Linked DNA regions of Homo sapiens: regions 2 and 3 are each linked to region 1. The links come from fine-mapping of genetic effects on gene expression. A gene starts in region 1. Each other region holds a variant in brackets. All regions are shown on one strand. Distances are between the middles of the regions.

Region 1 (10,893 bases):
TCTACTAAAAATACAAAATTAGCCGGGCATGGTGGTGCATGCCTGTAATCCCAGCTGCTTGGGAGGCTAAGGCAGGAGAATCGCTTGAACCCGGGAGGCGGAGGTTGTGGTGCGCCGAGATTGTGCCATTGCACTCCAGCCTGGGCAACAAGAATGAAACTGTGTCTCAAAAAACAAAACAAACAAACAAAAATAGTCAACTCTGATTGGTCCAGGTCATGCTGTTGAGTCAGGCCATTTCATAGGTGGTTTGAGAAGCCTTTGAATTGGATGAAGGTGGGAGGGGTGTCAGTGGAAGGGCCCCTGAGGATGTCCTAGGGGCTGTGGGCATGGCAGGTATTCTGCAGCTTGTCTTGTTTAAGACACAAAGCAAGCCATTCTTCACAAAGATTGTCATGATTCTGGTTTGAATGATCACTAATTTTATTTTTTTTGAGAGAGGGTCTCACTCTGTCACCCAGGCTGGAGTGCAGTGGCGCGATCTTGGCTCACTGCAACCTCCACCTCCTGGGTTCACGCCATTCTCCTGCCTCAGCCTCCCGAGTAGCTGGGATTACAGGTGCCCACCACCACGACTGGCTAATTTTTGTATTTTTAGTGGAGACGGGATTTCACCATGTTGGCCAGGCCGGTCTTGAACTTCTGGCCTCAAGCGATCTGCCCGCCTCGGCCTCCCAAAGTGCTGGGATTACAGGGGTGAGCCACTGCGCCTGGCCTGAATGATCACTAATTTAACATTGCTAAAGTCTGCATGATGAGGCTTTCCCGAGTTTACGCATGATTTGACATACCTGGTTTCCTTTTGGATGTGTGGTCGTCTGCATCAACCAAGGACTGTCGGAGATTAAGTGAGAACATAGAGGGTATTTTTTTTTTTTTTTTTTTTTTTTGAGACAGAGTCTCCCTCTATCACCCAGGCTGGAGTGCAGTGGCGCGATCTCGGCTCATTGTAAGCTCCGCCTCCCGGGTTCACGCTATTCTCCTGCCTCAGCCTCCCGAGTAGCTGGGACTACAGGTGCCCGCCACCACGCCCGGCTAAGTTGTTTGTATTTTTAGTAGAGACGGGGTTTCACCGTGTTAGCCAGGATGGTCTCGATCTCCTAACCTCGTGATCCACCAGCCTCAGCCTTCCAAAGTGCTGGGATTACAGGCGTGAGCCACCGCGCCCGGACATAGAGGGTATTTTTAAATGCTTTGAAATTCTCAAAGAGAAAAGGGAAAAAAAAAGTCTCAATAGGAAAAATGTGACAAACGGAATCCCGGCGACCTGTTAATGGTTAATTCTCACAACAGTGTCTCAGTGCATATCCTTGGCCAGCAGCCAGCACCTCGGTCCCCTGGAGTGGCAGTTCCAAGTCACTGGCATGGCCACAACAGTTTCTGAACTCGAGCTAAGGACAGAACTTTGTTTTTGTCCAAAATTCCCTCATTATTATTTTTGTTTTGTTTTGTTGTTTTTTGAGACGGAGTCTTGCTGTGTCGCCCAGCCTGGAGTGCAGTGGCACGATCTTGGCTCACTGCAACCTCCGCCTCCCGGGTTCAAGCGATGCTCCTGCCTCAGCCTCCTGAGTAGCTTGGATTATCCCAGGCGCTCACCACCACGCCCGGGTAATTTTTGTATTTTTCACAGAGACAGGGATTTCACCATGTTGGCCAGCCTGTTCTCCAACTCCTGACCTCAGGTGAACCACCCGCCTCGGCCTCCCAGAGTGCTGGGATTACAGGCATGAGCCACCGCCCCTGGCCCCAAATTCCCTCATTAAACAGTTTCTCTTGCAGAAGCACAATGAGTGAAATTGGCATGAAGCCATTTCACTAAATAACCACATCAGTGAATTTCCTGGTCCTCACTCAACAAACAAAAACAACTGGTGGTTTTCCAGGCTGGTTCATTTGAGTCTACCCTCAACCAGCACCTGCCCAAGCTTCTGGCCTAGAAGAGGCACACGTGGCAGAAATACAAGCAGACGGCAGAATAAATAGCATCAATGAAAAGAGTCAAACTTTGTAAAACATTTGAAGAGATTCATTCTGAGTCAAATATGAGTGACCATGGCCTATGACCCAGCCCTCAGGAGACCCAGGGAAAATGTGTGCAAGGTGGTTGGACACAGCTGGGTTTTATACATTGCAGGGAGACATGAGACAGCAATTAAATACATATAAGATATATATTGGGGCCAGCTGTGGTGGCTCACATCTGTAATCCTAGCACTTTGGGAGGCTGAGGCCAGTGGATCACTTGAGCTCAGGAGTTCGAGACCAGCCTGGGCAACGTGGCAAAACCCTGTCTCTACTAAAAATACAAAACGTAGCCAGGCATGGTGGCACACACCTGCGGGAGGTGGGAGGACCGCTGGAGCCGGGAAGTTGAGGCTGCAGTGAGCCGTGATTGCACCACTGCACTCCAGCCTGGGTGACAGAGCGAGACCCTGTCTCAAACACAAAACAAAACAAAACAAAACAAAACAAAACAAAAAAACAAAACCTTGGTTTAGAAAGGTAGGATAACTTGAAGTGGGAGGGCTTTCAGGTTATAGGTAGATTTTAAAATTTTCTGATTCACAATTGGTTAAAAGAGTTACTATCAATAGAAAGGAATGTCTGGGTTATGATAAGGGGTTGTGGAGTATCCCCCCCAAAAAAAAGCCTCCAAGTAGCAGGCTTCAGAGAATATATTGTAAATATTTCTTTCTTTTTTCTTTTTTTTTGAGATGGAATCTCACTCTGTCGTCCAGGCTGGAGTGCAGTGGCACAATCTCGGGCTCACTACAACCTCCGCCTCCCAGGTTCAAGCAATTCTCCTGCCTCAGCCTTCCTAGTAGCTGGGATTACAGGTGTGTGCCATCACGCCTGGCTATTTTATTTTATTATTTTATTTTATTTTATTTTATTTTATTTTAATTTTATTTTTGAGACGGAGTCTCGGTCTGTCACCCAGGCTTGGAGTGCAGTGGCGCGATCTCGGCTCACTGCAAGCTCGGCCTCCCAGGTTCATGCCATTCTTCTGCCTCAGCCTCCTGAGTAGCAGCTGGGACCACAGGTGCCCGCCACCACGCCCAGCTAATTTTTTTGTATGTTTTTAGTGGAGACGGGTTTTCACCGTGTTAGCCAGGATGGTCTCGATCTCCTGACCTCGTGATCCGCCCGCCTCGGCCTCCCAAAGTGCTGGGATTACAGGCATGAGCCACCGCGCCCGGCCACGCCTGGCTAATTTTTATATTTTTAGTAGAGACAGGTTTCACCATGTTGTGCCACTGCATCCCAGCCTCGGCGACAGAGCAAGACTGTCTCAAAACAAACAAAAAATAAAGTGTGTATTTTTTGACCTAATTAATAAAAGTTCCCATGTAATAAAATTTTCCAAAAACAGTCTTTCAAGTTTTTAAAGATATATGTATAAGGAAGTTCATTTCAGTGATATTTGTAAAAGGAAAACAATGAACAAAACAGAGTACATCAAGAGGCTTGTTGAATAAATGATGGTGCATCTAGAGAAGTCATTAAAATGTTGAAGACTTTTTTTATTTTGCTTTATTTTTGTAGAGATAGGGTCTCACTCTGTCGCCCAGGCTGGAGTGCAGTGGCACAATCACGGCTCACTGCAGCCTCAAACTCCCAGGCTCAAGTGATCCTCCTGCCTCAGCCTTGGTAGTAGCTGTGACTACCGGCACATCCCTCCATACCGGGCTAATTTTTGTATTTTGTTGTAGAGATGGGGTTTCACCATGTTGTCCCGGCTGGTCTCAAACTCCTGGACTCAAGTGATCCTCCTGCCTCAGCCTCCCAAAGTGCTAGGATTAGAGGCCTCAGCAACCGCACCTGGCCTGACGACCTATTTTTGATATGACTATTTTATAATGGTAGGATATAATGCAATCTTTTGGTGAATAAACAACAAAATCATCTATACTCATATTATTTTTAAATAGGAAAGATATACCCTAAATGATTACTGACGTTTATAACAAAGTAGTGGGATAGAAGGGGATTTCTACTTCTTTGGGTTTTTTTCTTTGATTTTCTACAATGAACTCGTATTATTTCCTAGTAAGAATGTAAATCAAGAGACAACTTTTTATTCCATGGGAGGAATTATCAATGTCAAGAGTCAAAACAGATAAGAACTGTTAAATAGTGCTTATTGGCTGGGCGCGGTGGCTTATTGCCTGTAATCCCAGCAGTTTGGGAGGCTGAGGCAGGCGAATCATGAGGTCAGGAGTTCGAGACCAGCCTGGCCAACATGGTGAAACTCTGTCTCTACTAAAAATACAAAAATTAGCTGGGCGCGGTGCCGCCTGCCTGTAATCCCAGCTACTCGGGAGGCTGAGACAGGAGAATTGCTTGAACCCGGGAGGCAGAGGTTGCAGTGAGCTGAGATCACGCCACTGCACTCCAGCCTGGGCGACAGAGCAAGACTCCGTCTCAAAAAAAAAAAAAAAAAATAGTGCTTATCATATTCAGCAAAAAGCAAGCAGCTTGTGGTCACAGTAAGAGCAGTTTTGGTATGAATAAATATGGTTTAAAATTGTTTTTCAAAAAACAAACATAAAAAACCAAAACCCAAACATTTCTCAGGAATTTTGTGAGGACGAATTTTGTGTGTGGAGAAAACGGACAAATACATTTCCCCATATATTTAAATGCTCAAAAGTTCACTCAGGTGCTCTCACCAGGCAATTACTATGACAAGTGATCACGTGCGAAAATACAGAGAATCTGGCTCGTTTTAAAGTGCAGGAGAAAAGCAAGGCCTTACTGTTTCTGAATTTGCTGTGTGTGTGTGTGTGTGTGTGTGTGTGTGTGTGTGTGTGTATGAGAAGATGGGATCTGGCTCTGAAGCGCAGACAGGAGTGCAGTGGCAAGATCGTAGCTCACCGCGGCCTCAAACTCCTAGATTCAAGAAGTGATCGGCCGGGCGTGGTGGTTCACGCCTGTAATCCCAGCACTTTGAGAGGCCGAGGTCAGGAGATCAAGATCATCGTGGCTAACACGGTGAAATCCCGTCTCTACTAAAAATACAAAAAATTAGCCGGGCGTGGTGGCGGGCGCCTGTAGTCACAGCTACTCGGGAGGCTGAAGCAGGAGAATGGCGTGAACCCGGGAGGCGCAGCTTGCAGTGAGCCGAGATCACGCCACTGCACTCCAGCCTGGTCAACACAGAGAGACTCCGTCTCAAAAAAAAAAAAAAAAAAAAGTGATCCTCCCGCCCCAGCCTCCGGAGTAGCTAGGACTACAAGCATGCACCACTGTGTCTGGCTTTTTTCTTTTTTTCTTTTTTTTTAAGTTTTCTGTAAAGACGGGGTCTTGCTACCTTGTCCAGGATGGTCTCAAACTCCTGGGCTCAAGCGATCTTCCTGCTTTGGCCTCCCAAAGTGCTGGGAATACAGGCATGAGCCACCGCGACAGGCCATGTTGCTGAATTTGGAAAGTGGAGCAAAGAATCATGCAAAAAATTAAGAAAACCAAAACGCAACCAAGGCGAATTCAATTGCATTTTTTTTTCCCAGCGACACTTTCTGAGACACGAACCTCTCTCTTCGGCGAACCTATTCCAGGGCGCCCTTCATTTTCATTTCTTGAAACAACAGCCTTGCAGGCCGAGCCGCTGTTCCCGAGAACTCGGCAGCCACAGGGAGCAGGTTGCATGGACCCAGGAGCGCGAGAGGCCCTGCTCTGCCAGCTTCGGCCAATCAGAGGCCAGGGAGCGGTGGGCGTGACGTGGGGCGGTGCGCGGGGCTGGGCGGCGGCTGAGGCGCGTGCTCTCGCGTGGTCGCTGGGTCTGCGTCTTCCCGAGCCAGTGTGCTGAGCTCTCCGCGTCGCCTCTGTCGCCCGCGCCTGGCCTACCGCGGCACTCCCGGCTGCACGCTCTGCTTGGCCTCGCCATGCCGGTGGACCTCAGCAAGTGGTCCGGGCCCTTGAGCCTGCAAGAAGTGGACGAGCAGCCGCAGCACCCGCTGCATGTCACCTACGCCGGGGCGGCGGTGGACGAGCTGGGCAAAGTGCTGACGCCCACCCAGGTACACCGGGCGGCGGGCGTGCAGCGAGCGGCACGGCGCGGAGGCCTGTGCCGGCCTCCTGGGTGGGACCCAGCGGAGACAGGGCCAGGGGCGGTGGGGAGGTTCAGCCTGCGTGTGTCGAGGCCCCCCCAGGCCAGAGGTCCCGGGGTCCATGTCCCATGCCTGGGGGCCACCCCGAGCACCGGGAACCCGGCCTGTGGCGTGGCCAGGCAGGTTCGGCCTGCGGCAGAAATTCATTCACTTTTCCCGGGCTTCAGACCCAAGAGGGACCTAGGTTCGGAAACAGGCCGGATCCCCCTCTCCCCCCACAGGCCAGGGCGCTGGAGAGGGACGTCGCCGGGACAGAGTAGGCTGTGGCTGCCCGGACGCCCCCAGAGCTTCCCCTAGGGCCTCAGCATTTTAGGCCTGGTTTTGGAGGGCTGAAGCCTCACCCGAGAGCCTGTGACGCATTATGTAACTGGCGATGAGCGCGCCGGCCGATTTCTCCTTTGTTAAATGGGTCGAGAGCGTCCAGCCGGTACGCTGGAGGGCAACGGTTTAGTTTTGGTCTTTGACCTCCCACGCCCACGGCTGGGGCTGCCGAAAGTGAAGAAACTAGATTTGCAGACGCCACTGCTAGTTGGTTATGAAGCTCCGGGCAACAGCGTAAAATAAACTGCCCCGACCTTACATTGTTTTGGATGTTCACAGAATTTAATTTTTTTGGATGTTTAAATATGTAGTGCCCATCTAACACAGCCTCCCTTTTCCTGCTCCCTGCCCGCCTCTCATCACCTTGGCTTTCTCCTTTTCTTTGCACTTTGAAACGTACAGTTAATGCAGATTTCACTTCAGCAGGCTCCAGGTAACCTCCTGATCACCAAATCCAGAAACGCTGTGATTCCGGACAGACAATGTAAGGGTGTCGTTGAGAGGGGACTCAGTGCCAGGGTTGGAATCCCAGCCTTATCTGTTTCTCTTAATAGTGTGCTGGGATACTAGCCCCATGGTGTTGTTGGGACTGAAATAATATACAGCCTGGGCAACATAGCAAGACCCCAACTCTACAAAAAAAAATTGGCCAGGTGTGATGGTGTGAGCATGTAGTTCCCAGCTGCTCAGGAGGCTGAGGTGGGAGGATCGATCGATTGAGCGCTGGAGGTTGAGGCTACAGTGAGCCTTGATAGCGTCACTACACTCCGGCCTGAGTGACAGAAGGAGACCTGGTCTCAAATAAAATACATAACGTATATAAAACTCCAGCTCCTGGCTCTTACAGTCAATACAGGGTCATTGATTTTATTAAAAATCTATTCTGTTTTGTCTTTGGAGAGTCTGAGATCAAAGAAAGAGTATTGGTTTCTTCAGCATTTCTTGTTTTTGAGACAGAGTCTCACTCTGTCGCCCAGGCTGGAGTGCAGTGGGGTGATCTTGGCCGCCTGCAGCCTCTGCCTCCCCAGCTCAAGTGATCCTCCCACCTCAGCCTCCCGAGTAGCTGGGATTACAGATTCCCGCCACCATGCCCAGCTAATTTTTGTAGTTTTAGTAGAGGCAGGTTTCACCGTGTTGGCCAGGCTGGTCTCAAACCCCTGACCTCAAGTGATCCTCTCTCCTAGGCCTCCCAAAGTGCTGGGATTACAGGCGTGAGCCACCACACCCAGCCAGTTTCTTCAGCATTTCTGACTTTTTTACTGCAAACTGGTTCCTTCATACAGGTTAAGAATAGACCCACCAGCATTTCGTGGGATGGTCTTGATTCAGGGAAGCTCTACACCTTGGTCCTGACAGACCCGGATGCTCCCAGCAGGAAGGATCCCAAATACAGGTGAGAGGTGAGAAAGACGAGAAGAGCAGGTCATGCAGAGATGAGTTATCGGGTGTAAGTCCCTTGCTGGACACAGAGAAGTAGACCTGGTTTGGGATGCCCCCACCCATGCTTAAGCCAGAGAGTGCCTTTCCTGCCCTTTTGCCCCCCTACAGCAGGTGTCTGTAACTCACAGCCGAGAGCCATATCCACCTGTGGCCTGTTTTTATACAGCCCCATGAGCTAAGAATGGTTTTTACATTTTTATTTAGTTATTTATTTTTTATTTTTTTGAGACAGAGTCTCAGTCACCCAGGCTGGAGTGCAGTGGCATGATCTTGGCTCACTGCAACCTCCACCTCCCAGGTTCAAGTGATTCTCATGCCTCAGCTAACCGAGTAGCTGGAATTACAAGCGCCCACCACCATGCCTGGCTAATTTTTGTATTTTTAGTAGAGACGGGGTTTCACCTTGTCCAGGCTGCTCTCGAACTCCTGACCTCAGGTGATCTGCCCGCCTCAGTCTCCCAAAGTGCTGGGATTACAGGTGTGAGCCACTATGCCCGGCCTGGTTTTCACATTTTTAAATGATTGGTGAAAAATTGAAAGAAGAATAGTACTTTATGATGTGGAAATTACACAAAATTTACCTGTCAGTGTCCATCAGTTAACGTTTTATTGGAGCAAAGCTATGTGTCATCTGTGGCTGCTTTCATGCTGCCAAGGCCAAGTTGAATAGTTGCAACAGAGACTGTGGCCCCCAAAGCTTAACAAATTTATTCTCTGGCCTTTTAGTGGAAAGTTTGCTGACCTTTGCTCTAGAAAATGTCAGAGGGTGGGAGGGGCTGGGTCTGCTCTTCTGCAAACACATGAGGTTCGTGCTGGCCTCTAAGAAAGTGAGGACTGGGCCGGGCGCGGTGGCTCATGCCTGTAATTCCAGCACTTTGGGAGGCCGAGTCGGGGGGATCACGAGGTCAGGAGTTCAAGACCAGTCTGGCCAACATGGTGAAACCCCGTCTCTACTAAAAATACGAAAATTAGCCAGGCATGATGGCAGGCGCCTGTAATCCCAGCTACTTGGGAGCCTGAGGCAGAGAATTGCTTGAGCCCAGGAGGAGGAGCTTGCAGTGAGCCGAGATCGTGCCACTGCATTCCAGCCTGGGTGACAGAGTGAGACTCTGTCTCAAAAAAAAAAAAAAAAGAAAGGACTGTTGTTCGTGGCTGTGTTGTGGCAGCCAGCATGTTCTTGATGCCCAGTTGCTGACTGTGCAGTGAATGTTCCCTGATCTCCTGTGGTGCTGACATCCCGTGTTTCTTCATGCAGAGAATGGCATCATTTCCTGGTGGTCAACATGAAGGGCAATGACATCAGCAGTGGCACAGTCCTCTCCGATTATGTGGGCTCGGGGCCTCCCAAGGGCACAGGTTAGTAAAGGTTGTTTTTGGTGGGAGGTTGGGGAGGGAGCTCGGGGGCACATTAGGATTGACCCAATGCTTTTCTTTTGAGAGCCCTTAACCCTGCTGGAAATAGCATCTCAGCTTACCTCTAGGGCAGCTGCCTTCAGGGCACACATTCAGACCTGCAGCAGTGTCAGGTGGCTAGAGCCTTGGGTTCTGGACAGACGGACCCTTTGTGTAGAGCTGTCTCTGCACCCCTAGCCCTTTAGCAAGCAGGGAAGTTGGTGAGAGGGAAGCACTGTTGCAGAAAGCTTAGCATGGCCTTTTGGGGCTGCAGTGAGTGGAATACACAGTTAAACTATCTCAAGCCTTTGCCCGGGGTGATCTTTGAGTTTCTTTAAAACATTTCAGAAATGATCATAGTTTCCAAATTAACTATATAAGGTTGCTTTCTGTATTTGTTTCTGAAAAAGTCTAGCTGGGTATATTGAAAACAGATTTGGAAGACTTCAGTAGAACTATATTGAAGGCGCACACACACACACACACATTGTATTGTGTAGTATCGTGTTATAGCTATTATATATAAAATACATGTAGATATTTAGAGATAGAAAGAGAAAGCCCACCGTATTGAAACTTTCCAGGTTGGGTAAGTGCCACCTAAGCTGATGGTGAGATATGCATTCTTATTGCCTGGTGTTCAGTTCAGGATGTTTCCATTTGGTGGAACTGTCATAATCCTAGCTTTTTGTACAGCTTATCCAGCCAGGAGTTAACATGAAGAGGTACAAGAACATCTCTGACATGGACAGTTGGTCATGGGCTCATGGTTTCTCTGTAGACCCGGAAGCTTCAGATGCCTTTAAACCCTCTCACGCATGCATAGTAGATGGTAAAGGGACAGATTTCCCAGGGACCTAGTAAGTTCTCTAGGGCAGTTATAAAATTAGGCAGGTTAATTATGGGAAGCTTACCCATGAGAATAAGGCAATTCTCTCAAGTAAGAGCTGTGTTCTCATTTTTTTTTTTTGAGATGGAGTCTTGCTCTGTCTCCCAGGCTGGAGTGCAGTGGCACGATCTCGCTCACTGCAAGCTCCACCTCCCCGGTTCATGCCATTCTCCTGCCTCAGCCTCCCGAGTAGCTGGGACTACAGGTGTCCGCCACCATGCCTGGCTAATTTTATGCATTTTTAGTAGAGACGGGGTTTCACCGTGTTAGCCAGGATGGTCTCAATCTCCTGACCTTGTGATCTACCTGCCTCGGTCTCCCAAAGTGTTGGGATTACAGGCGTGAGCCACTGCGCCCGGCAGAGCTGTGTTCTCATTTTTAAAAAAGCCTCAGTAACTCATTTTCTTGTTGTTTTTTCCATATTCTTGTAATATGGTATAATTTACATGGTAACAAAATCCACAGATCGGAAGGGTTCAGTCAGCAAATGTGATCAATGCATACACCCATGGAAGGTAGCAGCCATTGGAAAGACAGATGACATTTCCATCGCCCAACGACATTCTCATGTGACCTTTTTACTTAAATTCCCCCAGAGCTAACCATATTCTGACTCCTGTCTCCATAAATCACTTTCACTATTCTTTTTTTTTTTTCTGAGATGGAGTCTCGCTCTGTCTCCCAGGCTGGAGTGCAATGGCGTGATCTCGGCTCACTACAACCTCTACCTCCTGTGTTCAA
Region 2 (10,893 bases), 35 kb before region 1:
CTCATCTCCCAGGCTCAGCGATTCAATGTGCAGGGAGGTGGCATCCACTAGAGAGAAGCGAGGCTCAGCTGGCCGGAGGCTAGAGTTGGACGAGAGAAGGAAGACAGGCTCCGAGTTGTTCCGGTACCAGGTCACCTGGCCCCTCAGTCCCGAGATGTTGCCACAGTGCAGAGTAACATTCTCATGAACTTCTCCAATGACAACAGCCTCCAATCCTGTACAAGGCAAGATCAGGCTGTTACTACCCTTCTTAATTTCTAAACAATGTCCCTTTTTGGACAGTACTCCTGTATTAGGATTTTTTTAAAAATCAGGTATATGTTCTTTTTTTTTTTTTTTTTTTTGAGACGGAGTCCCACTCTGTCGCCCAGGCTGGAGTGCAATGGCACTATCTCGCCTAACTGCAACCTCTGCCTCCCGGGTTCAAGCTATTCTCCTGCCTCAGCATCCCAAGTAGCTGGGATTACAGGCACGTGCCACCACGCCCAGCTAATTTTTATATTTTCAAAAGGGACAGGGTTTCACCACCACATTGGCCAGGCTGGTCTTGAACTCCTGACCTCAGGAAAAGTCAGGCTCATGCCTGTAATCCTGGCACTTTGGGAGGCCGAGGTGGGCGGATCACAAGGTCAAGACATCGAGACCATCCTGGCCAACATGGTGACACCCCGTCTGTAATAAAAATACAAAAAATTGTGGCCGGGCATGGTGGCTAACGCCTGTAATCCCAGCACTTTGGGAGGCCAAGGCGGGCGGATCACCTGAGGTCAGGAGTTCAAGACCAGCCTAACCAACATGCAAAAACCCTGTCTCTACTAAAAATACAAAATCAGCTGGGCGTGGTAGCACATGCCTGTAATCCCAGCTACTAGGGAGGCTGAAGCAGGAGAATCGCTTGAACCTGGGAAGCAGAGGTTGCGCTGAGCCGAGATCGCACCATTGCACTCCAGCCTGGGCAACAAGAGCGTAACTCCGTCTCAAAAAAAAAAAAAAAAGCACAAAAAATTAGCTGGGCATGTAGTCCCAGCTAGTTGGGAGTCTGAGGCAGGAGAATCACTTGATCCGCCGGCCTCGGCCTCCCAAAGTGCTGGGATTACAGGCATGAGCCACCGTGCCTGACCATATGTGTTCTTAAGATGCAATAACACATACAGAGCAGCTGGGCGTAGCGGCTCATGCCTGTAATCCCAGCACTTTGGGAGTCCAAGACAGGCAGATCTCCTAAGGTCAGGAGTTCGAGACCAGCCTGGCCAACATGACAAAACCCCGTTTCTATTAAAAATACAAAAATTAGCCGGGCGTGGTGGCACACGCCTGTAATCCCAGCTACTCGGGAAGCTAAGGTGGGAGAATCGTTTGAACCCAGGAGGTGGAGGTTGCGGTGAGCCGAGATTGCGCCACTGTACTCCAGGCTGGGCGACAGAGCGAGACTCGGTCTAAAAACAAAACAAACAAACAAACAAACAACACATACAGAACGTCTGGTATGTTGGGACTCTTGGCCAGTCACTGACAATAATGAACTTGTAGTAGGTAACAAACATAGCCCCAGTTGTCCACCCAGTCTGCCCACCATCCATGCCCCACATCACTGGGGGGCCATCCCACTCTTTGTGAGGACTCAGCCATGAGCCCTGTTTTGGCCCATGGGATGTTGGGAATGTGACACAAGCAGAGTCTTTAAAGTGTTTGTCTATAATCACTACAGAAATGCAAATCAAAACTGCAATGAGGCCGGGAGCCGTGGCTCATGCCTGTAATTCCAGCACGCTGGGAGGCCGAGGGAGGAGGTTTCACTTGAGGCCAGGAGTTCGAGACTAGCCTGGCCAACATGGTGAAACCCCGTCTCTGCTAAAAATGCAAAAATTAGCCAGGCGTGGTGGCGCACACCTGTAGTCCCAGCTACTCAGGAGGCTGAGGCACGAGAATCACTTGAACCCAGGAGGTAGAGGTTGCAGTGAGCCAAGATTGTGCCACTGCACTGCAGCCTGGGTGACGGGGCAAGACTCTGTCTCAAAAACAAGAAACAAACAAACAAACAAACAAAAGGCCGGGCTCCACGCCTGTAATCCCAGCACTTTGGGAGGCTGAGGCGGTGGATCACCTGAGCTCAGGAGTTCGAGACTAGCCTGGCCAACATGGTGAAACCCCGTCTCTACTAAAAATACAAAAACTTAGCTGGGCATGGTGGCAGGTACCTGTAATCCCAGCTACTCGGGAGGCTGAGGCAGGGGAATCACTTGAACCCGGGAGGCGGAGGTTGCAGTGAGCCGATATTGTACCACTGTACTCCAGCCTGGGTGACAAGAGTGAAACTCTGTCTCAAATAAATAAATAAACAAACTACATGGTACAGACCCAAGTTGTCTCAGTGGCTCCAGCCTGGCCCATTCTAGATCAGCCTTCAGCTAGTCATCGATCCCCAGGCAGATCAGCAGAGCCCCCTAACCAACCACCCCAGCCTGTGGGTAATAAGCACTACTGTCATTTTGGGGTTGTTTCTTATACAGCATTACTGTGGCGATCAATAATTGATACAGAACCCAAGTGGCTTTATTTGCCTAGAAATCCAGAAGGGGTAGAAAGAAGAGGGCTTTGGCTTTGTTTCCACTGTCCCACTGCTCTCTCTGCCTCTCCCTCTCTCTCCGCCTCTCCCTCTCTCTCCGCCTCTCCCTCTCTCTCCGCCTCTCCCTCTCTCTCCGCCTCTCCCTCTCTCTCCGCCTCTCCCTCTCTCTCCGCCTCTCCCTCTCTCTCCGCCTCTCCCTCTCTCTCCGCCTCTCCCTCTCTCTCTGCCTCTCCATCTCTCTCCATCTCAAATGGCCCTAGAGTTCAAGTTCTCTCAGAAGCCCCATGGAAGAATGGGCTGGCAGTAGGGACTGTGTGCCCACTCTGGACAAAGCACTGGGAATCCCACTGTGGACACAACACACAGAAACCTCCAAGAGTTCACAGTCTAGTGAAGAAAAGAGACAATAAACTGGCAAGTACAATGCAGTGTGATAAACACCAAGATAAGGCCTCAGAGAAAGGGCTCCTAAGTCCAACTAGGGCAAATGTCAGGAAACACTTCCCCCAGGAAGCCAAACTGAGATCTGATGGACAAGTAGGAATCAGCCAAGAAAAGGTGAGGATGGGTTCCCAGGCAAACGGAGCATGTTCCAAAGCCCAGATCGGCAGCCGCAGCATGTTAGAAATATAAATTATCAAGCCTCACCCCAAAACACCTAGATCAGAAACTGCGGGAGAGCAGCAGCCCTTTGTGTTTTATTTATTTATTTTTAACAAATCAGCAATTATTTAACTTTTTTTTTAAGAGATGGGGGTTGGGGGGGGTCTCACTCTGATGTCCTGGACAGTCTTGAACTCCTGACTTCAAGTGATCCTCCCACCTCAGCCTCCCAAAGTGCTGGGATTACAGGAATGATTCATTATACCTGGCCCAGCATCTGTGTGTTAGCGAGCCCTCCAGGTGATTCTGACGCCCATTCAAGACTGACAGGTGTCCGGGTGTGAGTGTGCCTGCTCAGGCCTGTAATCCCAGGGCTTTGGGAGGCTGAGGTGGGCGGATCACTTGAATCCAGGAGACTGAAGCTGCAGTGAGCCACAATTGTGACACTGCACTCCAGCCTGGGCAGCAGAGATACCCTGTCTCTCTTTTTGTTTGTTTAAGGTAAAAAACTGTTTTTTTCTTTTTTAGAGATGGTGGAGGGGCGGCGGGTTGGGGTGGGGGGTCTCACTATGTTGCCCAGGCTGGTCTTTGAACTCCTGGACTCAAGCATTCCACTCAGACCCACCTCGGGCTCGCAAAGTGGTGGGATTACAGGCGTGAGCTGCCACGCCCAGCCAACCCTGACTCATAAAAAAAGACCGACAGGTGCTAACGGGCATTAGACTGTCACTAGGTAACAAGAAGCAAATGCAACCCATTTTGCTGAGAAGTTTCACAATTGTCCAGCCCCCTCCACAATCAAGACCCAATACAAAGAGGCTGCAGGAATAGGAAGATGGGCAGAACCTGTTGGGGTGATAAAAATGATGAATTAGTGGTGATGGCTGTATAACCCTGGACTACACTAAAATCCCCTGGGTGGTACACTTAAAAAGGGTGAATTTTGTGGCATGTAAATTATATCTGAATAAAGCTGTTATAGAAAAAATAAACTGCCACTTGCCCCTGGCAATCCTTCCCATTTAAGTGAAAGAGTAATCATTATCTGTATTTGGCCTCTTGTCTGGTTAGAAGGGGCTCCCTTTTAAAGATCTGAAGCCAGCCTGGAGCCCCAGGAAGTTCTGATTCTCTCACCATTTTGGCCACACCATTCCCAAGACTTTTCAGCCAAGTCAGGATGAAAACAAACGAACAAACAAACAAAACACCAAATTTTAAAAACTAAGCCACTTGCTGAAAGGTGGAGAATGCCATCTAATGACAGAGATTCCAAAACAGCAAGAAATGCTTCTGAGCAATCACTTTAAAAAGCAGGTGAGGGCCGGGGGCGGTGGCTCACGCCTGTAATCCCAGCATTTTGGGAGGCCGAGGCAGGTGGATCACTTGAGGTCAGGAGTTGGAGACCAGCCTGGCCAACATGGTGAAACCTCATCTCTACTAAAAATTAGCTGAATGGCCGGGCGTGGTGGCTCCTGCCTGTAACCCCAGCACTTTGGGAGGCCAAGGTGGGCAAGATCAAGAGCTCGGGACCAGCCTGGCTAACACGGTGAAACCCCGTTTCTACTAAAAATACAAAAAGTTAGCCGGGCGTGGTGGCGCACACCTGTAATCCCACCTACTCGGGAGGCTGAGGCAGGAGAATCCCTTGTACCTGGGAGGCGGAGGTTGCAGTGAGCCAAGATCGCACCATTGCATTCCAGCCTGGGTAACAGAGCAAGACTCTGTCTCAAAAAAAAAAGCAGATAAGAATTCTTTTTATTTATTTATTTACTTTTTTTTTGAGATGAAGTCTCGCTCTGTTGCCTAGGCTGGAGTGCAAGGCGTAATTTCGGCTCACTGCAACCTCTGCCTTTGGGTTCAAGCAATTCTCCCGCCTCAGTCTTCTGAGTAGCTGGGATTACAGGCACCCGCCATCATGCCCCGCTAAGTTTTTGTATTTTTGTAGAGACAGGGTTTCACTGTGTTGGCCAGGCTGGTCTTGAACTCCTGACCTCAGGTGATCTGCCCACTTCGGCCTCCAAAAGTGCTGGGATTACAGGCGGGAGCCACCGCACCCAGCCAAGAATTATTTTTAAAT[T/C]ATTAGGATTGGGAACCCAAATTATCCAGTGGCAACCGCCACAATGGAAAGGAAGATGAACTTCAGAGTTACAGATGCAACATGTGTTCATGCAACCTGCAGACCTGCCCCTTGCCTAACTCCTTGGCAAAGAAATAAAGGAACAGTGGCTTGGAAAAAAGCCGTGGTGAAACTTTAGTCTTGGAACTTGAGCTAACATTGTTTTCTCCTCCAAGGCATAGAATGACATGATCACAAAAGAAACCATTTGAAGACATTTCACTTCTCCTGGTTTGGCTTACTCCGTTCTTTTTTAAACCACTGTATCTGAAGGTGCCCTTGGAGATCATCTAGTCCAGAGATGTGGCTGCCCTGTGGGCTGGGTTGAAGATGAGATTGAGTCCTGGTTCAGTGGAAAAGAACACAGTCATCGATTTAGTGATGTCTGACATAGACATGGAAGGGGTAGTTCTTGCCTGGCAGTCCTAAACCTCCTCACTTTACTACTGAGAAAATTGAGATTTAGGAAGATTAAGTTATCACTTAAAGTCCCAAGCAAATCACTGGGAGATGTGGGATTGTCACTCAGGTCACGTTACTCTGGTCTCCTGCACCAGACAGGATGCAATGATAAAATATAGTAACAAGTTTAGAAGTCATTCATATGGTGTCCAGAGGGTCCTTCTTGCCCCCCAACCTTAAATGTACAATAGAGAACCGAAGAGGGAGTAATATAAACTCCCTGATGCTGCCCATGTATTATTATTTACAGAGTAGGAGTTATACCCAAACATTTATTTATTTTTTTAAAGCAACTTTTCCCAAGAATAACCTAGGATTTACAATCCGGGGTAGCTAGTGGATGCATATAAGTTGTCTGGCATTGAATGTCAGGAGAAAAATTTTTTTCCCCAAAAACTCCCAACTTAAAAAACAAACACACAACAAAAATACACCAAGCTCAGGAAGCCCCCTGGCATCATACACAAAGGTGAAGCAGGTCTGGGCATCAAAATAGCTGGGCAAAGGCCCAACACGGTGGCTCACACCCATAATCCCAACACTTTGGGAGGCCGAGACAGGAGGATCGCTTGGGTCCAGGAGTTTAAGACCAGCCTGGGCTCAAGCGATTGTAGAGACCGTCTCTACAAAAAAATTTTAGAAATTAGCTAGGCGTGGTGGTGCACGCCTGTAGTCCCAGCTACTTGTAGGCTGAGGTGGGAGGATCAGTGCAGTGATTGCACCACTGCACTCCAGCCTGGGCAACAGAGCGAGAGCCTGGCTCGAAAAAAATAGCTGGCCATAGCAGTGGAGATAGGTTCCCCATGGGGCGGGTGGCAGTCAGCCTGAAAGCCAGGTCATTCCAGCAGGATGACTTCATCCCAGGGTTCTTCTCACTTCCCAGGTTCCTGGTGTTCATCGTGCAGGAAACACTGCAAACAGCTGGGGAGATGGGAATACTTGACAACCACCTTTCACGTCCAGAGATGACCAACTAGGAACTGTCCTCCCCCATCACCCACACCCCAGCACAGTGATTACTCAGCCAAATGCCTGCAGGGCCAGCAGGTAACACCCATGACTGAAGGTGGCGGGGCAAATATTACAACAGGGAGAGGTGGAACAAATTTGGGCTCATATGCCCTAGATAAGAGGATGACCACTGCCCAATTCCAACTGGGAAAGCAGGCCCCGTGTTGCCAGACCTTCAGATTTTTCCAGATAAACTGGAAATCTAGAGATGTTATTGTTTTTAAATGGTTGGTTAAAAAAAAAAAAGCAAAATAAAATTGTATGAGCCTAATAATTAGGAACTCTTGGCACTTGCTGCTAAGAAGCTCCAGCATACTTTACAACCCATCTCCAGAAACGTGCAAGAGGAGACCCGTTGGGTGGAGCAGACCCGGGAACACAAAAAGTAGCGCTCTGCCTGCATCCTGGCAAACTTCACCACCTCCTGGCTCCATCTCCTCTCCCTGCACCCCAGCCTCCTCCCAGCTTGTCACACTCCCAGCACACAGTAGGCATGCACAGTAGGCATGCTGGTGAATTAAATTCAAATATATATAAATAGTTCAATCTTTTTACATTCTACATATTTTTGTAAGCACCCCTCCAATTCTTTTTTCGTAGCAAAGCAGACCATAGATGAAGCATTTCAGACCTTTTGTCAATCATGTCAAGTGTGAGGGGAAGTCTTTTGTAAGTCAGCCAAGTATTTCAAAATAAAAAGCTTTTCCAAAAGTAAAGGCGGAAGACCCCGCTTTGAAGGCGCTGGTCGGCACAGGAAGACTTGCAAAGGTGTGTAGGGAAGTCCACCGGTTACAGGTGTAAGGCGAGTTCAACCTTGGGCAGAGGGAGGAGAAAAATAAAGTGGGAGTCTCGAGTTTGAGCACCAGCGTATCAGTTACTACTAAAACCAGAACGCGAATTTACATCCGACGCTTAAAAAAAAAAATCACTTTCCCGGCACACGTGCCTCTTTACTTTGCCCCCGCACGTCGGCTCGGCTCGGCTCCTCTGCAGCCTCACCGGCTGCCCACCCCAGGAGGCTGGGGGTATCTCGCCCCGCACCGGGCGCCCGGGAAAACTCCTTCCTGCAAAGACGGCCGAGCTGCGAGCAGGAAACCAAGACCCTCCTGGGGCAGCTTCTAGGCTGGGGCCACCACGGATCCGGGCGGAGTCGGAGGGAATTGGGTCTCTCGCTGTCCCCTCCCCACCGCTGACTGGGAAAACTCAACTTTTCCCTCCAGATCGCGGCCCCTTACCTACGGCGACCCAGCCGGCCAGGAGCGCCCCGAGGCAGACGAGGACGCGGGGCTCGGGCGCACTGCCGCCTGCGGCCATCTCGCCCCAGATCCCGGCTCAGGAAACGCAGGCTCGGGCTGGGCTGGACGTGTGTGCCCCAGGGCCCCGGGGCCCGGGGTACCGAGGGCTCCTCCCAGGTCCTCGGAACGGCAGAGTGGCCCCACTTCCTCGGCCCCCAGGAAGGATGCTTGGCTGAGCCGAGTGTCCAGGGCCGGCAGCGGAGCTCGGCTGCAGGCTCGGGTCCCCGCTCCCGAGCGCCCTGGCCGGGGAGGGAGGGCGCACCCCGCCCCCTGCGCCCGCCAGCCTACTCCTGCCGGCGGAAAACAACAGGAGCGGGATCCCTCCCGCCTCCCAGCCAGGCGGGAGCCCAACTTCCTCTACCTTGGCCCGGGAGGAGGGCTTTCTGCCGAGGGCGCGCCGAGCCGGGTCCCGCCGGGCCAGGGGCGGGGCGCGGAGGCTGGGCCCTCCCCAGTCCACTCCGCCCGGGACAGCAGTACCGAGTCGCGGGGACAGCGGGCGGGACGGAGCCCTGCAGCTGCCGCAGGACGCAACCCCCGCCGCTGCCCCGGGCTGCAGAACCCGGAGGAAGCGGTTGCCAAGCTGCAGAACGCAGGACCCCCCTGGCAGTCCCCGCTGAGCGTCTCGAGGGATTCCGGTCTGTGTCCCTGGGCGCAGGGCGGGCGCCAAGGCCGCCATCGCTTCCTTTCCTTACCCTCTGCAAAAGGGAGCCAGAGAAAGATGATCCCCTGACTTTCAGCCAAAGCAGCCACGAGACTCCGGTTCTCCAGTGAACTGGCTGGGACCACACAGTGACAGCGAGAGCCAAGGAGTCCCCAGGACGTGTTTCTCAAGAGTTTTGTTTTTGCTTTTCCCCTTTTAGTTCTCCCACCCCTTACCCAGTCAGATTCCCAGGCTAAGCTCCTCTCTTCCCTGCCATGCCCTCATCCCATTCTGTCCTGGGGAAAATGCGGCTTTGATATCCTCAGGAAGAGCCATCCATAAAACAGCCCTAGGAGAAACTTCCTGTTTCAAATAATAATAATATGGCAGGGCGTGGTGGCTCACACCTGTAATCCCAGCACTTTGGGAGGCCGAGGTGGGCGGATCACAAGGTCAGGAGTTCGAGACCAGCCTGACCAACATGGTGAAACCCTGTCTCTACTAAAAATACAACAATTAGCCGGGCATGATGGCGGGCGCCTGTAATCCCAGCTACTGGGTAGGCTGAGGCAGGAGAATCGCTTGAACCCAGCAGGCGGAGGTTGCAGTGAGCCGATATCACGCCATTGCACTCCAGCCTGGGCGACTGAGCGAGACTCCATCTCAAAATAAATATTAACGTTAAAAAAAAATCATTAGTTCTGTTGTTCAACGGTCCCCTTATTGAAATGCTTCTTCCATGAGGAAATCCTCTTGAAACCACTTTAAAAAAAAAATGTTTCTCCTGGTGAACTGAGCAATGAAGCTGAACAGTTCTGCCTTTTTTACTTTTCTGTTTTTTATTTTTTTGAGACAGGGTGTCACTCCAGTTGCCCAGGCTAGAGTGCAGTAGCACAATCATACCTCGCTGCAGCCTCAAACTACCAGGCTCAAGTGATCCTCCCACCTCAGCCTCCCGAGTAGCTGGGACTACAGGTGTGCAGCACCACGCCCAGCTAATTTTTGTAATTTTAGTAAAGACAGCGTTTCTCCATGTTACCCAGGCTGGTCTCGAACTCCTGACCTCAAGTGATCCACCCGCCTTGGCCTGCCAAAGTGTTGGGATTACAGGTGCGAGCCACCGCGCTCAGCCCTTTTTTATTCTTTGCTCAAATATTTTTAAATAACTGTTCATCAGCCGGGCACGTTGGCTCATGCCTGTAATCCCAGCACTTTGGGAGGCCGAGGCAGGTGGATCACCTGAGGTAAGGAGTTCGAGAGTAGCCTGGCCAACATGGTGAAACTTCGTCTCTACTAAAAATACAAAAATTAGCCCGGTGTGGTGGCAGGCGCCTGTAATCCCAGCTACTTGGGAGGCTGAGGCAGGAGAATCGCTTGAACCCAGGAGGTGGAGGTTGCAGTGAGCCGAGATCGCGCCATTGCACTCCAGCCTGGGGAGAAGAGCGAGACTTCGTCTCAAAAAAAATAAATAAATAAAAAATAAAATAAAATAACTGTTCATCAGATTCTTGACAGGAATTTTGTTTGTTTGTTTTTTGAGACGGAGTCTCGCTCTGTCGCTGCAAGCTCCGCCTCCCAGGCTCATGCCATTCTCCTGCCTCAGCCTCCCAAGTAGCTGGGACTACAGGCTCCTGCCACCACGCCCGGATAATTTTTGTATTTTTAGTGGAGACGGGGTTTCACCGTGTTAGTGTGGGGAAAAGCAAGAGAGATCAGATTGTTACTGTGTCTGTGTAGAAAGAAGTAGACATGGGAGACTCCATTTTGTTATGTACTAAGAAAAATTCTTCTGCCTTGAGATTCTGTGACCTTACCCCCAACCCCGTGCTCTCTGAAACATGTGCTGTGTCAAACTCAGGGTTAAATGGATTAAGGGCGGTGCAAGATGTGCTTTGTTAAACAGATGCTTGAAGGCAGCATGCTCCTTAAGAGTCATCACCACTCCCTAATCTCAAGTACCCAGGGACACAAACACTGCGGAAGGCCGCAGGGACCTCTGCCTAGGAAAGCCAGGTATTGTCCAAGGTTTCTCCCCATGTGATAGTCTGAAATATGGCCTTGTGGGAAGGGAAAGACCTGACTGCCCCCAGCCCGACACCCGTAAAGGGTCTGTGCTGAGGAGGATTAATATAAGAGGAAGGCATGCCTCTTGCAGTTGAGACAAGAGGAAGGCATCTGTCTCCTGCCCCTCCCTGGGCAA
Region 3 (10,893 bases), 75 kb after region 1:
ACTTTTTGTATTTTTAGTAGAGATGGGGTTTCACTATGTTGGCCAGGCTGGTCTCAAACTCCTGACCTTAGGTGATCCACCCACCTCAGCCTCCCAAAGTGCTGGGATTACAGGCATGAGCCACAGCTTTCAGACCCAATCTCTCTCTCTCTCTTTTTTTTTTTTTTGCCTTACTTGAAGCACTAGGAAGTAAAGGAACTGAACCCAAGCCTTCTTTGTGGTTACAGATCACTAAGTGACTAAGTTCTGGCCAGTGAGAGGTAGGCAGAAGTTCTCAAGGAAGGTTTTATTTTCTAGAATAAAAAGGCAAGACACATGAGGACAAGGTGTTTTACCCTTTGTTCTCTCTCCTTCTTCCTGCCTGGAATGAAAACTTGAGTCATGGCAATGTAGCAGCCATTTTATGACAAAGACAATAAAAGCTACATGCTAAGGATGGTGAAGTAGAAAGAGAGAAAGAGCTTGGGTCGATGACGACATTGTTGAGCTGCTTAGAGCTTTGGACTGCTTACGCCACTTCCTTTTCCAATGTCCTGGACTTCCTATTACATGAGATAAACTCTTACCTGTTTAAACCTTTTACAAACAGATACACTCTACATCTTAATATCTCACTGTCTCTTAGATAAAGTGTAGCCTTTTACAGCCAGGTTCCTGCTTGTATTTCTAGGTTTAAATCTAGTCATTGCTACTCCTCCTTCCTACACAATTCTAGGTACATTCTAGGTAATTCTAAACCCGTGCATACCTTTCACACCTCTAGGCCTTTGCCTTCACATCTCTATGTTCTCTCTGCCTGCAATCCCATCTCCTCATTGTTTTTTTTTATTTTTATTTTTTGGGACAGAGTCTTGCTGTGTCGCCAGGCTGGAGTGCAGTGGCGCCATCTCAGCTCACCGCAACCTCCACCTCCCGGGTTCAAGCAATTCCCCTGTTTCAGCCTCCCAAGTAGCTGGGATTACAGGCATGCACCACCATTTCCAGCTAATTTTTTGTATTTTAATAGAGATGGGGTTTCACCATGTTGGCCAAGATGGTCTCAATCTCCTGACCTCGTGATCTGCCCACCTCAGCCTCCAAAAGTGCTGGGATTACAGGCGTGAGCCACTGCACCCGGCCTCCTCATTGTTTTTAAAAGCCCACTGTTCTCCAAACCCCTACAACTGGAATGCCCTCGGACTCTTTTAAAAGGACAATTTTATTGTTCTCAAAAATATGTTTACTTTCAACACTCAAATAACACAGAAAAATGTATAAAAAAAGAAAATCGGCCAGGCACGGTGGGTCATGCCTGTAATCCCAGCACCTTGGGAGGCCGAGGAGGGTGGATCATCTGAGGTCAGGAGTTCGAGACCAGCCTGACCAACATGGAGAAACCCTGTCTCTACTAAAAATAGAAAATTAGCCGGGCGTGGTGGCACATGCCTGTAATCCCAGCTACTAGGGAGGGCGAGGCAGGAGAATCGCTTGAACCAGGGAGGCAGAGGTTGCCATGAGCCGAGATCGTGCCATTGCACTCCAGCATGGGCAACAAGAGCGAAACTCCGTCTCAGGAAAAAAAAAAAAAAAAGAAAGAAAATCACCCGAAATTCTACCATCTCGAAATAAATACATAAATATTAAGTTACAGAATATCATTTTAGACATGTCCCTTTCTTTCTCTCAGAACAATGAATAACTAGAAATCATTTTACATGGGAATCTGATTATACAAGCTAATTTTATGTATAATCGATTTAATTAAGGTATATTTGAATTTAACAGGATTAGAAGAGACTGAATTAAAACGATTGCATAGGCTGTATGCAGTGGCTCATGCCTGTAATCCCAGCACTTTGGGAGGCTGAGGCGGGTGGATTACTTGAGGTCAGGAGTTTGAGACCAGCCTGGCCAACAGGGTGAAACCCTGTGTCCACTAAAAATAGAAAAACTAGCCAGACATGGTGGCGTGTGCCTGTAATCCCAGCTGCTCAGGAGGCTGGGGCAGGAGAATTGCTAGGGAGAATCTCAGGAGGCGAAGGTTGCAGTGAGACGAGATCGCGCCACTGCACTCCAGCCTGGGCAACGGCGCGAGACTCTGTCTCACACACACACACACACACACACACACACACATGCACAAATTAAAAAATAAAACAATTGCTTAACTTTAGTTGTAATTTCTTCACCAAAAGAGTTATCTGTTCCTAACAGATCCTCTAAAGTTAAAAAAAAAATTATTAAAGGCTTTACGAGATTGAAGTTACTTTAGTTCTTTTGTCCTATATATTTTAAGAAATGTTATTGTCCATCTACTTGGAAAGATAAGGAAATTAGTATGCATACGTTTTTCCTGCCCTTAGATTTTTCTAATTACATTATTTTTACATTGCAAATGTTTCTAACATTTACATCTGTCCTTTAACCATTTCAATAATTTTACCTCAGTTGTTTATTTAAATGGATTAAGTGTGAAAGTGATGTTTTAATGTCAGGGCAAAAATGCATGGAAAAGATGTATTATTGAAAAATATCTGGGAGTAAGTAGATAGCTTAGCTGGGGGAAAAAAGGTAGATTTTTACCTCACTCCTTGTAACAAATTTTTGCATAACTCTCCCCACCTCCTTTCCACAAAACATCAGCATAAAGAATGTCAAAAGAGAAATAGGAAAAAAAAAATCCAAGATCTACTATAAATTAAAAAGGAAATACAAATGGCTTTTCAACTTACGAGAGAGATGTTCAACATCTCCCATAATGTGAAATAGCAATTAAAACTATAGTGAGAAAAGTTTTCACTGATCTGACAAAGTTCAAAAAGTATCAGTCTTCATACTTTCACGGTGGGACTATAAATTGGTGCAACTGCTTTGAAGGACAAATGGGCAATATCTATCTAAATTTAAAATCCACATTGATGAGCAATCCCACTTCTAGGAATTTCTTTATTTTATTTTTATTTATTTATTTTTTTGAGATGGAGTCTTGCTCTGTTGCCCAGGCTGGAGTGCAGTGGCACGATCTCGGCTCACTGCAAACTTCGCCTTCCGGGTTCAAGTGATTCTCCTGCCTCAGCTTCCCGAGTAGCTGGGATTATCGACGCATGCCACCATGCCCAGCTAATTTTTGTATTTTTAGGAGAGATGGGGTTTCACTATTTTGGCCAGGCTGGTCTTGAACTCCTGACCTTGTGATCTGCCCACCTTGGCCCCACAAAGTGCTGGGATTACAGGCATGAGCCACCGTGCCCGGCCAGAATTTATTCTTTAGATATTCTTATACAGGGACAAAATGCCATATACACAAAGATATTCATTACGGCACAGTTTGTAATAGCAAAAGATTGGAAACATCCTAAATGCGTTGGTTAAACAAATTATGGTCCATCTAAGAATATTATGGAGCCATTAAAAAGAATGAGGTAGCTTTGCATGTAGTAATACAAAACAATATCCTAAGCACACTGTAAAGCAAAAAGAAAAATCAGGGTGGAACGGTTTTTATGGTTTGCTGTCATTTGTGCAAAAATAAAAACAACATTTACTTTTATATGCATAAAATATCACTAGAAGGAGAGGTACAAAATAGGTGCAGTGGTTGCTAGTGAGGGGGCCTGAAATGGGAGGGAGATTTCTTTTTCATGTTCTACCTTCTCTTATTATTTTTTGAGACAGAGTCTTGCTGTTGCCCAGGCTGGAGTGCAGGGGCACAATCTCGGCTCACTGCAACCTCCTAGTTGATCAAGCGATTCTCCTGCCTCAGCCACTCGATTAGCTGGGACTACAGGTGTGAACCACCATGCCTGGCTAATACTTATATTTTTAGTAGAAATGGGGTTTCTACGTGTTGGCCAGGCTGGTCTTGAACTTCTGGCCTCAGGTGATCTGCCTGCTTTGGCCTCCTAAAGTGCTGGGATTATAGGTGTGAGCCATTGCACCCGGCTCTTCTTCTTCTTCTTCTTCTTTTTTTTTTTTTGAGACAGGGTTTTACTCCCATCACCCAGGCTGAAGTGCAATGGCAGGATCTCGGCTCACTGCAACCTCTGCCTCCCAGGCTCAAGTGATTCTCCTCCTTGAGCCTCCGAAGCAGCTGGGACTAAAGGCGCATGCCACTGCACCTGGCTAATTTTTGTAGAGATGGGGTTTTGTCATGTCCAGGCTGGTCTTGAACACCTAGGTTCAAGTGATCTGCCTGCCTCAGCATTCCAAAGTGCTGGGATTACAGGTGTAAGGCACTGTGCCCAGCCCCAGGTTGTACCTTCTACTGTATTTTTCCTTTTGGAAATTTGTGAGACCTATTTAAAATGAAGAACATACAGCTTCTTTAGCCATGCAAAATAAATAAATAAGTATTTGGGGAGGGGCCTCTTTAAATTCAATATTTACCATCAGCCCTTTTACCAGTTTCTCCAGTCCCTCATTCATTCTTCCTGCTTGCCTTCCTCCCTCTTTTTCTTCTTTTTGCTTCATCTCTATATTGGCTAGATTCTGTTATTGAGCAATTTTTAAAAGGAAAGCGCCGAAAGGTTGCATTGCCTAAATGTGTGGGGCTCGAAGATGTCAGCTGCCTTTATAATTTAAGAACATCTTGGCTGGCTCACAATTCCTGGCTTATATTTTATTTCCCTTAGAACTCTGCAAACACTGTTCTATTGTTTTCTGGCTTTGACTGTTCCTGAAGAGGTAGGTCTGGAGTCAGTTGGTTTTTCCACCCCAAAATAAACTTTTTCAGTCTGCTTGTATGAATCTTTCTTTATTCCTAGAGTTCAGGGACTTCACCAGGATATGATTTACTGATCAATGAAGATCAGTTTCATGGTCCCCCTCTTCATGCATGTATCTGCTTAAATGTTACCTCCTCGAACGGCCTTCTCCTTACCTAAAATAGCAGCACCTGTCAATCTTGATGCTTGTCTAATTTATTTTTCTGCACAACACTTAACATCAACTGGCACTATAACATATATTTATTTCTTTTCTTTTTTCTTTTTTTTTTTTTTTTGAGACCTAGTGTCGCTCTGTTGCCCCGGCTGGAGAGCAGTGGTGCTATCTTGGCTCACTGTAACCTCCGCCTTCCGGCTTCAAGTGATTCTCCTGCCTTAGCCTCCTGAGTAGCTGGGAATATAGGTGCCTGCCACCATGCCCAGCTAATTTTTGTATTTTTAGTAGAGACGGGGTTTCGCCATGTTGGCCAGGCTGGTCTCGAACTGGTGACCTCCTGATCCTCCCACCTTGGCCTCCCAAAGTGCTGGGATTACGGGCATGAGCCGCCACGCCCGGCCTACTT[A/T]TTTATTTCTTACTCCTTCTTGTAAGTTTCACAAGGGCAGGCACTATGTTTTTATTGTGTACTACTGTATTCTCTGCGCTTAGAATAGTACTTGACACCCAGCAGACAATCAGTAAATATTTGTTGAATAAATAGTTGGCCCATTTGATTTGGTCCATCAAATCAAGATGGAATCAAATCAAAGGAAGATCCAAACATTTCCAGAAAAGTTTTCTTCAAGGATATCTTTAAAAATCTTCTCCTCCATGTGTTTTGTTTTCTTTTTCAGGAATAATCGGTTGGCATATATTAGATCTCCTGTGTCTTCCAAATGTATCATTTTCTTTATATTCATCTTTAGAAGTTTTATTTTTTGCACTTAATTCTATTTTATTTCCTTAAGCCTATTCACCATTGGAAACATCCTAAATGGGTTGGTTTACTACATGTTCGTTGCTTATAATATGATTTTTTAAACTGTTATGTTTTTTCTCTTCCATTTTTTTCTTTACCTCTACCCATTTGCTTTTTATATCCTTTTGTTGTCTGTAACCCTTAACTTTTAACATCGCCCAAATTTATTCATATTTTCCTTTTTTTTTTTTTTTTAAAGAGATGGTATTTTCACTCTATTGCCCAGGCTGGAGTGCAGTGGCACAATCATACCTCACTATAACCTCAAAATCCTGGGCTCACGTGATCCTCCTGCCTCAGCCTCCTGAGATGCTGGGATTATAGGCGTGAGCCACCATACCCAGCTCCACATTTTTTCCCCTTTTATGGTAGTAATTTTTATGTCTTGGTTTTTTGTTTGTTTGTTTTTAAGATCTTTGTGTACTTCAAGGTAATAAAGATATTATTGTGTGTTTCTGGTGTTTTGTTCTGGTTGCTATTTTCCCCTAAAGAAACATGGAATTGTTGCTAAGTAGTTCATGTTTAAAACATGTAAGGGCTCCACAACAAAGGAGAACAAGATCAAGCTCTTTGTCCTGTTGCTTCTCTTACCATACTCCTGTGGCCTACCGCTCACAAGAAGTAAAAACTTGTCACCTAGCCAAGGTGTTCTTAAATTATAAAGGCAAACATTTTTAAGCTTTACAAATTGAGGCAATACAACTCTTCTGAGTTCTTCTTAAAAACGAACAAACAGAACTGCTATACAATAAAAGCCAGCCATTCTAGAGACGGAAGAAACAGAAAGGGTTGAAAAACAAACATGCAAAAGAAGGATTAAAGAAATTTGGACTATTGTGCGCCAAATAAAAGAAAACACTTCTACTGTAAAAGATTTCCACATACTACACTGATATTGATGCAACACACTGCCTATGTATAAAGTCTACAGTAAAATATTACATGAAAAGAGATGCTTGGTGATAATTAAATCAAATAAATGTGGTTAACACGATACTCTTATCACTAACATGTCATAATACTATGTAAATGTCTACTCTATATAGTTATCATACACCTTCACTGCCTGAGGATTTGGCAACAACCTAACTGAAAATCCCAGAGTTGGTGTTTGAACCACCAGCCAGCTCTGTCCTGAGACCACTGGATTAATGTTTATGCAGATGTTAGGCCCAGGAACATCACAATGATGACTAGAGCAAGGAGGAGAAATATTATTTGTTATAAGGCAAAAAAGGAACAGGGAGGGAGGGGAAAAAATAGAAAAGATAGGGAAAAACCTATCCACAGGGAATACATAGCACATAACGTTGCAATAATCTTGCTATTTCTATGCCTAGCTACTTATCTCAGGATAAATGACAAGGCAGCACGTCCTAAACCACTTTGTCATGATGAGCTGCCACAGGAATGATTTATTATATTCCATTATAACATGACTTTAAATCCCCCTCCTCAAATATAAATTTGAAAAATTACCCTTAATAGTTCTGCTGATGTTGGCCTTTCCTGAGGTATTTTCTGCAAGCAGTAATCAACAAATCTCCTAAAGGAGTCTGTCCTGTGTGTGCAAATACACAAAAGAAAATAAACTCAGGGTCTGTAGAGCACACTGATTACTTAAAACAATTTTCATTCAAGGGAAAATTTTGCATTTAAGGAGATTTTAAAAAAATGCTTTGGAATATCAGGATAACTGGAGCATTTTCAAGTTACGATATCTAAAATTCTTTTGGATAATGAGTGAGGACAAGTTTCAAGTTAGTCAACATATTAATACATCTTAATATATAAGGAAGGTCAAATCATAATATACATCAGAAAACAAAAATACTATGTTTAAATAAAAGTTTTATATACATTTTTCTCTCCAAAGACAACAATTCTCATAGTCTCAACTCTATATTCTTAATTACCAATTGTTAATTCCTCTACCACCCACAATCTATAACAAAGTAGTAAAATTTGAAGCATGAGGGATGGAGAACCCAGGAGTAGGCTTCCTGAACAAAAATTCTTCCTATCTTAAAAGTTCCATTTTATCCGTTCTTCTTTAATATTGCCCCTTTTAAAATAACTCTTGTGGCCCAAATAGTTATAAAAATGTCATACTTTTCAGCAAGGAACACTGTATCTGAATAGATAATGTATGCTCTGTCTCAACACATTTAAGTGTACATATAGTTTAAAAAAAAAAAAGACAACTGGAGAAATAATGACATCATAGAGGGCCCCTTATCTCTGCTGAGAAGTGATATCAGCTGAGATGATCAATACAAGACCATCATGACCTGGGACAATAGACTTGTTAGGAGGGTAGCAGGGCATGTTCCCTGCAGGATTTTGGTTACTAGACACATTAAGAACACAGTGCAAGCCATGGTGAAGGCAAAAATAAGAAAATCTATGCATGTGTGCATGTGTAGACAGTTGATGCTTGTGAGGCATCAGTGTCACTTGTAACAACATACAGTGAAGGAAAGAAATGCTTTCTAGGTCAGATATTTAAAATGTAATGTAATAAAAATGTCAAATACATACGGTGATTTTCTTAGAGATTTAAAATGATAGCAGAGTCTTACCATTCATTAGACTGTAACGTTGGGGAGTCATTCTGGGCAATGTGATATAAGGCACTCATTGCATTCATGTTGAAAAGGGGCGGCTTCCGTTCCGCTGGAAGAGGAAAGAAACACAATAAAGTAGTTCTTGAAGGAAACCAGGCAGACAGAGAAATAAGAAACTATGAGCAAAGCTTTGCGGCTAAATCAATAGCTCATTACTGTCATCATGCCACATAATCCACTTATTTTAATCTCTAAGGTTGGCCCAAGATAGCCATTCAGAAGAAGCTGCCGGACATTAAATGTACATTGGCAAAGCTCCTAACAGAACTCATTTCAAAAGAGTGAAAGAAAAGTTTTTTTCTTTTTTTCACATAGCTTCAAAAAATTGGCTTTTGCATATTTTCCCACAATAGGTATGAAGATCTTTGCATGTGCGTTTTAGCTCAAAAATATATATTCTCTCCTTGAAGTCTGGGTATTTGGTGAAAAAGAAAAAGAAAAAAATTCATATTCACTTAAAAAAGTCAGAAAGCAAAGAAACATAGAATAAGGAAAAAAGATTACTATAAAATGCAACTTTTTTTTTTTTTTTTGTGACGGAGTCTTGCTCTGTTGCTCAGGCTGGAGTACAGTGGCACGATCTGCAACCTCTGCCTCCTGGGTTCAAGTGATTCTCCTGCCTCAGCCTCCTGAGTAGCTGGGACTACAGGTGCCTGACATCGTGCATGGCTAATTTCTTTCTTTCTTTTTTTTTTTTTTTTGAGATGGAGTTTCGCTCTTGTTGCCCAGGCTGGAGTGCAATGGAACGATCCCAGCTCACTACAACCTCCGCCTCCCAGGTTCAAGCAATTCTCCTGCCTCAGCCTCCTGAGTAGCTGAGATTACAGGCATGAGCCACCATGCCCGGCTAATTTTGTATTTTTAGTAGAGATGGGGTTTCTCCACGTTGGTCAGGCTGGTCTTGAACTCCCAGCCTCAGGTGATCCACCCACCTCAGCCTCCCAAAGTGCTGGGATTACAGGCATGCGCCACTGCGCCCGGCCTAATTTTTGTATTTTTAGTAGAGAGGGGGTTTCCTTATATTGGCCAGGCTGGTCTCGAACTCCTGACCTCGTGATCCACCCGTCTTGGCCTCCAAAAGTGCTGGGATTACAGGCGTGAGCCACTGCACCCAGTCCCATAATGAAACATCTTAAACATCACTAACAAAATGGCCGGGCGCGGTGGCTCACGCCTGTAATCCCAGCACTTTGGGAGGCCGAGGCGGGTGGATCACGAGGTCAGGAGATCGAGACCATCCTGGCTAACACGGTGAAAGCCCGTCTCTACAAAAAAAAAAAAAAAAAAGAAATACAAAAAAATTAGCTGGGCATGGTGGCAGGCACCTGTAGTCCCAGCTACTCGGGAGGCTGAGGCAGGAGAATGGCATGAACCCGAGAGGCAGAGCTTGCAGTAAGCCAAGATCGCGCCACTGTACCCAAGCCTGGGTGACAGAGTGAGACTCTGTCTCAAAAGAACAACAACAACAACAAAAATCACTAACAGAGCATGAGAGATAAGCCAATTATATTCAGTAAATACTGTCTGATGCCTGATTCAGGCCAAATAATTGCTAGGGGTGACAGTAGAGAGAGAAATGGAAAGGAGGAAGAGAACTATAAATTATAAATAAAGTCTGGTCCATCCCACTCTAAAGAGAAACTCAGTGAGTCAGGCATTTATTTTTTAATTATTTATTTTTTGAGATGAGGACTTGCCCTGTTGCCCAGGCTGGAGTGCAGTGGCACAATCAGGGCTCACAATAGCCTTGACCTTTCAGGCTCATGAGATCCTCAACCTCTTGAGTAGCTGAGACTACAGGTGTGTGCCACCACGCTGGACTAATTTAAACAATTTTTTTTTTTTTTTTGTATAGAGGCTGGGCGCGTTGGCTGACACCTATAATCCCAACACTTTGGGAGGCCGAGGCCGGCAGATCACCTGAGGCCAGGAGTTCGAGACCAGCCTGGGCAACATGGTGAAAATTGTCTCTACTAAAAATACAAAATTAACCGGGCATGTTGGCACAAGCCTGTAATCCCACCTACTTGGGAGGTTGAGGCAGAAGAATCACTTGAACCCAGGAGGTGGAGGTTTCAGTGGGCTGAGATCGGCCCCTGCACTCCAGCCTGGGCAACAGAGTGAGACCCCGTCTTAAACCAGGCTGGTCTTGAACTTGTGGGCTCAAGCTATCCTCCTGCCTCAGCCTCCCAAAGTGCTGGGAGTATAGGCATGATGCACTGTATCTGGCCAGGTATTTCCTGGTAGAGGATTTACTCCTCCCCAGCCCACCACGATCTCTTTATTGGAACTCCTCCAACTCTCCCTTGGCATACTGGTCATTTGGCATGTGCTCACCTATCATATCTACATCATCATACAAATCTTTTCTCTCAAAAGAAATCATAAGCTCTAAGAGCACAAGATCTTATAACCTGAATATTCTTTTTCTTTTACTTATTCCCCCAGAATTTGTAATAAAATGTGATTCACATATTAGGGGTTCCATTTGTGGATCAAAGGAAAGAAACAAGGCTCTAGTTCTGAGTACAGTTAATTTTATGGTATTTATTAGTTGTTACGGAATAGAAGATAAATCACTATCAGGCCAGGCACGGTGGCTCACGC

The links.
Region 2: its variant is fine-mapped to the expression of PEBP1 in transverse colon (GTEx, PIP above 0.99).
Region 3: its variant is fine-mapped to the expression of PEBP1 in whole blood (TOPMed, PIP above 0.99).

Annotation. Positions count from the first base shown.
Region 1 is chr12:118,130,325-118,141,217 of GRCh38, forward strand. PEBP1 (phosphatidylethanolamine binding protein 1) reads left to right here and starts at 5,800. Exons shown (of 4, transcript NM_002567.4): 1 at 5,800-6,020; 2 at 7,715-7,824; 3 at 9,127-9,227. The coding sequence starts at 5,886. It overlaps LOC101928274 (a long non-coding RNA gene), which reads right to left and starts at 5,668. Exons shown (of 4, transcript XR_945409.4): 1 at 5,533-5,668. RefSeq lists an enhancer at 5,595-6,095 and a silencer at 6,088-6,177.
Region 2 is chr12:118,095,600-118,106,492 of GRCh38, forward strand. It overlaps VSIG10 (V-set and immunoglobulin domain containing 10), which reads right to left and starts at 8,412. Exons shown (of 9, transcript NM_019086.6): 1 at 7,994-8,412; 2 at 1-215. The coding sequence starts at 8,072. LOC124903029 (a long non-coding RNA gene) reads right to left here and starts at 7,983. Exons shown (of 2, transcript XR_007063478.1): 1 at 7,390-7,983; 2 at 6,006-6,668. RefSeq lists a silencer at 8,256-8,505 and an enhancer at 10,147-10,862. The variant T/C (reference allele first, on the strand shown) is at 5,247.
Region 3 is chr12:118,205,776-118,216,668 of GRCh38, forward strand. TAOK3 (TAO kinase 3) reads right to left here. Exons shown (of 21, transcript NM_016281.4): 10 at 8,242-8,335; 11 at 7,139-7,220. Among named protein-coding and RNA genes, the nearest start is that of PEBP1, 75 kb to the left of the region's middle. The variant A/T (reference allele first, on the strand shown) is at 5,267.